Regions from separate parts of the Homo sapiens genome. Here region 1 is reported to be linked to region 2. Evidence: microRNA targets listed by miRTarBase, many of them from high-throughput screens and not tested one by one. Region 2 holds a microRNA gene; the other region holds the end of a gene's coding sequence.

Region 1 (4,000 bases), not on the chromosome of region 2:
TGAAGGCAATGACCTCACCTTTACAAAGTTATTGTAACACGAAACTTAACATGGAGCGCCCATGACCTGGCCAAAGTTTTATTACATGTTAATTCTCTTTTCCTTCTTTTGCATAAATGATTTCTACACCCGGCTATTGGGAGGCTGCAGATTGCACCATTTTTGTGGGTTTGCTTACCAGCATTTGTGCCCCCTTGTGGTGGCAATGAGGTTAATTAAGCATTGCCAGGAAAGTGGAGAACCATAAACATTCCAGTTCTGGGCAATGTTGCTATGCAAATCTCTATTCTGAAATTTGTGAGTTAGCAGGGGCAGCCTCAGTGGTCAGGATTCTGCACTCAATCCTGTGAAATCCACCTCCCTAGAAAATGAGACCGCTCATATCTCCTCTGTGTAATTATTTGATTATGTAAAATATCTACTTGGTTTAATAACCATAATACAAAATTCCTTTGGAAGGAAGAATCAAATATTAAATCTGAGATGACTGTGAGCATTGAAGTGTGGATTTTTGTCTAAAGAAATAAGCCCAAATATCAATTGTGTTTCCGAAGGTAAAGATGGGCTGAAGCTTACACAGAGCACTGTTTGCCGCTAACCTCTACCATTCTCTCTCCATCCAGGTTCACTACAAAGCACTTGAACGATGAATCAACTTCCAAACAGATTCGAGCAATGCTTCAGTAGAGCTCTGCTCAAAGAAGAGGATCTATGTGCTGACCTCAGAAGATGTATATGTTTACATAATTTAATACAGATTGATGTTAATACTTGTGTATTTACATAACCGTTTCCTTCTTGTCACTGAAATATATGGACCTTAATTTGTATCCTGACTGACTCAACCCAGCAGAGCATAAATTGACTTGAGAGCCTTACCTTTGATGTCTGAAATGAAACCCCCTTCTCCAAAGGCAAAATTCGGAGACTTTGATCTTTGCTACTGGAGTCCTTTAACAACATCTATAACGATAAAAAATTCCTAATTGTTTGTGGTAGTATTTTAATTCTAGATGTGTTATCTCTCTGGGAAGTATAGTTTATAGAAACACAAAATATTTGATTTCCTGTGTCGGCTCAGCTACAAGAAACACAACTGTTATCTTGACAGAGGAAGAGAGGAATCCAAGAAAAATGCATGTGGAGAATTAAACCCAAGTGTTTCGAATTCAGCACACCCCCTCTCTGTCCTCAGACTGCAGTCCACACGTGCAACTTTTCTGTTTGCACGTGTTTTATTAATCAGCATACTCCTTTTCTGTTTGGATTTATATCCCTCTAATGTTCTCCTTTAATTTCACATGAAAAAAAAATCTCCTGTATTTTTTTCAGTTAGTGGGAGAGCAGCAGAAATAGATAGATGTGCTGTTGCCACTGGACTGATGAAGGTGGCTGTCTTGGAACTGGGAGACAGGTCCTCAGAGGTGCACTCAGGCAACAGGACAGCCATCTCTCTGCTTCAGCCCTCTGCCTACAGGGATTAGGGAAATGGAGCTCTGGCTTTGAAGTTATTTGTGAGTTTAGCAACCTTCCAGTTACCTGCAGAGTTCTGGGTGCACAGCCACCCCTCATAAGAGCCCTGTTCTCTGAAGACCATTCATATGAGAACAAAGGTCTAGGATACTGCATTAGTTACCAGAAAACTAGGGGAATTTAGAGGGAAAAAAAATCCATGTTTTCTATTTCCCAGGTTTTTAAAAAGTAGCTCTTCCCCAACCCCGTTGCTAGCTTGTTGCAATATAAAAGCCCTGGTGCACCTGAATTTACTCCTGGCCTTACTAATGATTCATAATGTGATCTTGAGAAATGTGTTTAAGCTTTCTGAGTCTTAACCTCCTTGTCTCTAAAATGGGCAATTAAAACAATCTTCAAGAGCCCTGTAAGGTTAATGCCGATAAAATGACTGACTCCGCCCTTCTTCCTTAGTACGTAGTATCCAGCAAGCATTTGCCCCACCTTGTCTTGTTGATGAACAATATTATGAAGCCTGCAGTCATTCTCTCTGTACATCAGAGCTTAGTTCGAATGGAATCATGAAAATCTCTGATTCTGACCTCCTAAGGAAAAATGAAACCCAGAGGATGTGGTCATACAGGATGGCTCCCATGTGGGCCTAGAACCCAGGATGCTTCACTCTTGACTCCATGCTCTTCCTTTTATACCATGTGGCTGTGAATACATACTATGGGATGGGATTCAACCCTTCTAAGTAAATCCTCAGTCTGGTCTATATTGTTACTTGCCTGTTTCCACTAGAAGGAGTCACCCAGGCATTTAGTGAATGATAATCCTAGAAGTTGAGTCTGAGTACATCAGAGTTTGGCATTATTTGCAACATCCCAGGAATGAGCTATAAGACTCCATTGCTTTCTGGACTTTAGTGACCAGCTGATCTTCCCTTGGATCCTCCAATAAAGGGGAAAAAATACTTGTCTTATGTTGTTTTAGCAAGGGAGTTCAGCCAAGTGACAGGAAAGATTCCCTGGTCTGCATCTAAACATTAGTCAACAGAAGGAAAAGGCTCTTTTCCTTGGAGATTTTCAAGTTGAAAAAGTACAGCTGCTTGGATGGAGTTTCTCTCATCAGAATAGAAATATGCTAGGTGGTCTTCAAGACCTTTTTGAACCTACAGATTCTAAACCTTAGAGGAAGCCAGAATATGTGATCATACCAGGTGAGGAAAGTTAGGAGATATTCATCTTAAGAGATATCCTATTTGGCAGTCACATGTTACACTTGAGCAACAATTGTCTAGGCTAGAAATATAGAACCACACAATATTTATCATCATTGGGTCAATTTCTCCCCCTCTATCAAGTGAGGAGATTAAGGCTTAAAGAAAGGAAAGGACTTGCCAGCCACCACAGGGCTCATGAGGGGCTTGAACCCATGTCGTGTGTCTCTACCACAGCTGACTCTCAGCTGGCTAATGGAGAAAATGTGAGGAATTACCTGTCAAATTAGATTGAGCTCAGAGTAAATAGATGAGCACATTTATAACTCTAAATTAGACTTTCTATCAAATGGGACCAAACATATGGAAGGGGCTGCTGTCCTGCCTCAATTTAGCCAAGACTTGTCTTGTCTCAAAGCCAAGACTCAGCAGTACATGGATTCTGAGAAGTCCAGGGTCTGAATTGTTGTCTCTGATTACTGGAAGGACAGGTTAACTGAATGTCTGTGATCACTAACAGGTGATGGGCTTTGTGCCCACTCCAGAGATATTGTGGGAGACAAATTCTTTTAACAGCCTGTCCTCCCGGCATCAGGAGTCATTGAACAATCATGGATTGTTGTGTTTGGGATTTTTTTTTTTTTGGCTTTGTTTTTGGTTTTTGTGTGTGTGTGTGTGTGCTGCATGCACATGCGTCCAAGACTTACGGGTGGTTTAGGGGAAAGTGCTAGCAACAGTGTCAATGTCATTGTTAACTATATTTCATATTTGAGGTCTCATTGTTTTCAAATAAACAGTGTTTTCCATGACTGAGATATTTATTTTTGGGAAAGCAACGAGGTAAAAATTATGTTTCTCAGATGCACTGCTACTTTGGCGTTATTACTGTGTTCTCAGAAACTCGTTGTGCACCACTAGGAATTAGTAGTAGAAAAAAAAAAACAATAACAAAAAAAAAAAACAACTGGAAATGGATGTCTTCACATTAGGGGTGGAGTATTAACAACCAGAAAGAAAGTTTGGATATTACCTTTTAACTACTAGTTAACATCATGCTTGATCAACATTTGCTCCTAGTTATCACCATTAAATTAAGACCTTAATGGTAAACTGAGGTTACTGATGCATCATCACATTTAAGTAAAAATAATTTCATGTTTTCCCCAAAGAAAAATTAAGCCTCCCAATCTTAGGATCCAATTGTGCAGTAGAATTCAGAGACTTCTCATTCAATCTTGTATCCTATGCAGCTACAAATATTTTTTAAATGTTAGTAATAAACATTGGAATTTTGTCTTAAAGAGTTCAAAACCTTGGAACCCAGTT
Region 2 (4,279 bases):
TTAAGATTTTGAGGGACTGTTGGAAGGGCATTATTGTGTTTTGAAATGTGAGGACATGAGATTTGGGAGGGGCCGGGGTGGAATGATATGGTTTGGCTGTGTCCCCACCCAAATCTCACCTTGAATTGTAATAATCCCCGTGTGTCAAGGGCAGGGCCAGGTGGAGATAATTGAATCATGAGGGCAGTTTCCTCTATACTGTTCTTGTGATAGTGAATAAGTCTCACAAGATCTGATGGTTTCATAAAGGGGAGTTCCCCTGCACACGCTCTCTCTTGCCTGCCACCATTAAGACATGACTTTGCTTCTCCTTTGCCTTCTGCCATGATTGTGAGGTTTCCCTGGCCATGTGGAACTGTGAGTCCATTGAGCCTCTTTCCTTGATAAATTACCCAGTCTCATGTATGTCATTATTAGCAGTGCGAGAATGGACTAATACACCCCATCTCTACAAAAAGTTAGCCAGGTGTGGTGGTGCACGCCTGTAGTCCCAGCTACTCAGGAGGCTGAGATGAGCCTGGCAATTGCTTGAGTCTGGGAATTTGAGGCTGCAGTGAGCCATGATGACACAACTGCATTCCAGCCTGGGTAACAGAGCAAAAAAATAAAAAATAAAAAGGTAGGAACTATTTTATTATTAACAGAGTCTGTCTTATTCTGCTGTTGTTGACATTTTACAGATCCTTTATTGCCAACTATCTGCATAACTAGATTTTAAGTTCCTTGTATGCAGAAGTCATGTATTATTTTTTAAAATTTTCCTTATATTGATCTGTTTTTTTTTAATAGTAAAGATTGTTGAATCTGAACATTAGATGACAATGTATTTGTCCAGCATTTCTCCATTTGAAATTATCTCACATTATTATGTGAGACTTGTTCATGTGCTTTGCTGGAGTTGAGACTTAGACAGTCTGTGTTTTTTTATTTAGCAAAGATAATCCAAGTTAAAATAGTGTTGTGTGTTCCTATAGGAAAACTAGGCCCAGTGTTATAACAGAGTGTAAGTAATAATAGCCACTAGGAGGTAAGTACCTGCTCTGTGCCAGGAGCTATGCTTCAGATTTGAGATGTTTTTATTTAATTGTCACACTGATTTTATTACATAGGGAACATTTAATAGGAGAACAAAGCTTAGGTAGGTTCAGTAATGTGTCCAAGTTCACACAGCAAATAAGTGGCAGAGTGAACTTGAACTTTGATTCTCTCTGAATCAGAACCTATTCCTTTATATGCTCTGTTGTATCCCTAGCCTGAGATCCACTAAGCAACTTTTTGAAGATGAGTACTACTGATTTCTTATATCCAACATGTATACATTGTCCAATGAAATTCTGCTAAAACATGGGAAATATAGGTCAGCACAATTACCAGTCATGCAAAATTGTATTTAATATCATAATTTGTAATGGTGAGGGGTGCTTCTTTGGGACATAGAATTTACAATGGCAATTTATTGACATATTTATTATTAACATTATTATATTTACATTCTCTAGGTACCCACATTTCACTCCTAGACACTTTTGCATAATCTCAATAACATCATAACATCTATAAATATTAACACTAATCCTGTAACATCACCTAACTTTTACCCGTATTCAGATTTCCCCACTTGTCACAAGAGTGTCTTTTGTTAAAAAACCCGGATCTAATCAAGTTTCACTCATTGTATTCGTTGCTATGTTTTTTTGTTTTAATTTTGATGGGCATCTTTCAGAAGTTTTAAAATAGTCTTAGAACCTCTTTTTAAGAACCAGATTTGAATAATTTATTTTATTGACCTCCTTGTCACTCTAACATTTCTTTAGTAAATACAGGCTTTGAGGGTAGGTATTGGTTTCTCTGTTTAAAAGTAGAAACTTTGCATAAATCAGCCCTTATATGTGTAAGTTTTCTGCCTTTTGGTTTCTTCTCATGCTGTTTCTGCACAAGTGCCTAAGCTTTTTTGAAGCTTTACTTGAGGGGTGACCAGAAGGTTTTACTTAAGGACACAGACCCTTAAATTCTGCAATGACAAATCTCAACTTCCATCTCAGGGTTGTAAGTGAAACCAGGATGCAGCCGTTTCTCTTTTCTCAGATAAGTTCAGGTTTGAATATAAAGTGTGACTATAAGATACAGAGACTGTCCCTAGAAAAGGAGGGGAAAACATTTTAGCAGTTCCTCTTTGGAGATAACTTTCAGTGCCTGCCCATCAGCCTCCAAGGAAAATGCTTTTTGGTTACTTTATAGGTTCTAGTGAACTTTGCTTACTTTACAATGTTCCCCAAAATGTCTGTTGAGATTAGTGCCTGAATTTCCACTGGGCTGACCAGTCTGTAGTTTCTTGAACATTTTCTTCCTATGCCAGTTAAAAATTAGAAGAAAATTGAAGTTTAACATACACATTCAGAAAAAAATAAAAAATCAGATTAATAAGAAACTAATGAGGCTGTGCCATTGTAAACTACTTGCAATAGAGTTTCCCAACGATGAACTGAGTATCTAGAAAATAACAAGGATTCTCAAGGAATTTTAGTGAAATGATCAGTACTGTATTGAAATACCTTGAATCAGACTTTGGAGAATAGATTTAAAAACACTCACAGCCTTAACCGATCTAGTAAGAACCTTATTCCCTAAAGCATACTGTGGATCTCAGCTGTATCCTATCTAAGGTGAGAACAGTCAAAGACAAATGTGGCCTTTGAGAAAGGTGGGATGTGAGTGTCTTGAAACAACAGGCTAAAGAAGTGCTCTCAAATAGAAGTATAATATGGAACATGTGAAATTAATTTTAATAATATATTTTAGTTAACCTAATATATCCATAATATTTTCATTTCGACATGTATTAGGTTGGTGCAAAAGTTATTGTGGTTTTTGCTATTTTTTTTTAATGGCAAAAACCGGCAATTACTTTTGCACTAACCTAGTAGTTACTACAAAAAAATATTAACAAGAGATTTTATGTTCCACTTTTTAATACCAGGTCTTCAGATTCTGGTGTGTATTTGATACTCAGAACACATCTCCATTTGAACTAACCATATTTCAGGTTCTCACTAGCCACTTGTAGCTGGTAGCTACTTTGATGGATTGCATAGGTCTAAAGGGAAACATCTTGAGAAAGAAGAAATAGGTTAAGTGCAAGAACAAGAATTAAAAAGGAAACTATTTTAGCATCATATTAGAAGGAAAGTACAGAAAGAAGTTGATTTAGAGAACCAACATCTTAATTCTTGATGAACTTATCGAGGAGGCAGATTGACAGCTGAGAGCAAGGTCCGGGAACCTTGCTCTGGCCTTGGGGACCGAGGGTTTGTAACCGTTGGGAGACAGGTGGCTGCAGTTTCAGTATGAAGTAGATGAGGGCAGGGAAACTGGTGGTGGTGTGGCTGAAATCAGTAAATCTCTGTCTTAAGGAAATAAGAGAAGTCACTAACTGGGACCGGCTAAGGGTGGAATCGATCAGGAAAAAAGAGGAATGGCCCCAACCAAGGCATCTGATGTTCTGGCCAACAGTGCAGGCTCTGGGGCCGACTGCCTGTGTCTGGACACCAGCTCTGCCCCTTGCTAGCTGAGTGAATGCAGTCAGCTGACCCTCTCAGTCCATTTCTTCATCTGTAGCCTGGTGCTTCGGAATCTTTGACCTTCTCTATCAACCAAGTGTCCAGCGGAGCAAACCACCTTACTTTGATAGGCGTGTTCTCAAGAAATAACTCCTTTCTCACTCTCACCCCAGATGTTCTTAGGCTCGCTCCCCTGCTTTTCTGGACTCTGCTCAGATGCCAACTTATGACTGCCCCCCATGCCATCCAACTCCTTTCCTTACCAGTACTCCTCAGCCCCCACACTCTGCTTTATTTTTCTCTATAGCACTTAACATCATCCAACATCATCCAAATAAAAGATATTTACTTTTTCATTTATTATGTTCTTCCCTCCACTGAAAAATAGACTCCAAGAGGGCTGGGATTTTGTCTGTTTTGTTCATTGCTATATCCTGCCTGCTTATTTCAGTGTCTGGCACATAGGCAGGACTCCATGAACATTTGATGAACAAATAAATGAATAATAAGAACTACCTCAGAGTTGAGTTGAGGATTAAATGAGTTAATACACAAACAGCTCTTGGAACAAGTGCTTGTCACATAGTAAGCCTGCAGTGAATCTTCGTGCTGCTGCTACTGTTAAATATTATTACTGAGGCTGAGCTGGCCTAGGGCTCCTTGGATTGGACTTGCTAAGAGCTAGGCAAGAGTCACAACTGTATGAAACTTGATTGAGTTAA

What was found. The annotated mature microRNA hsa-miR-548ac reads CAAAAACCGGCAAUUACUUUUG and lies in region 2 at 2,889-2,910, shown strand. An mRNA with a match to its seed (bases 2 to 7 or 8) in the 3' UTR can be bound and repressed. Matches are read on the target gene's strand: a 7mer-m8 pairs with bases 2 to 8, a 7mer-A1 pairs with bases 2 to 7 and ends in A, and an 8mer does both.
Region 1: miRTarBase lists CYRIA as a target of hsa-miR-548ac. Seed matches in the 3' UTR shown: 8mer at 1,690-1,697 and 7mer-m8 at 3,331-3,337.

What each region holds. Positions count from the first base shown.
Region 1 is chr2:16,549,623-16,553,622 of GRCh38, reverse strand. It overlaps CYRIA (CYFIP related Rac1 interactor A), which reads left to right. Exons shown (of 12, transcript NM_030797.4): 12 at 624-4,000. The coding sequence ends at 687. Among named protein-coding and RNA genes, the nearest start is that of CYRIA, 110 kb to the left of the region's middle.
Region 2 is chr1:116,558,669-116,562,947 of GRCh38, reverse strand. It overlaps MIR548AC (microRNA 548ac), which reads left to right and starts at 2,837; the gene lies at 2,837-2,924. All of the region lies in intron 1 of CD58 (CD58 molecule), which reads left to right. LOC105378925 (a long non-coding RNA gene) reads right to left here. Exons shown (of 3, transcript XR_947739.2): 3 at 1,761-4,279. RefSeq lists enhancers at 281-430, 3,030-3,269.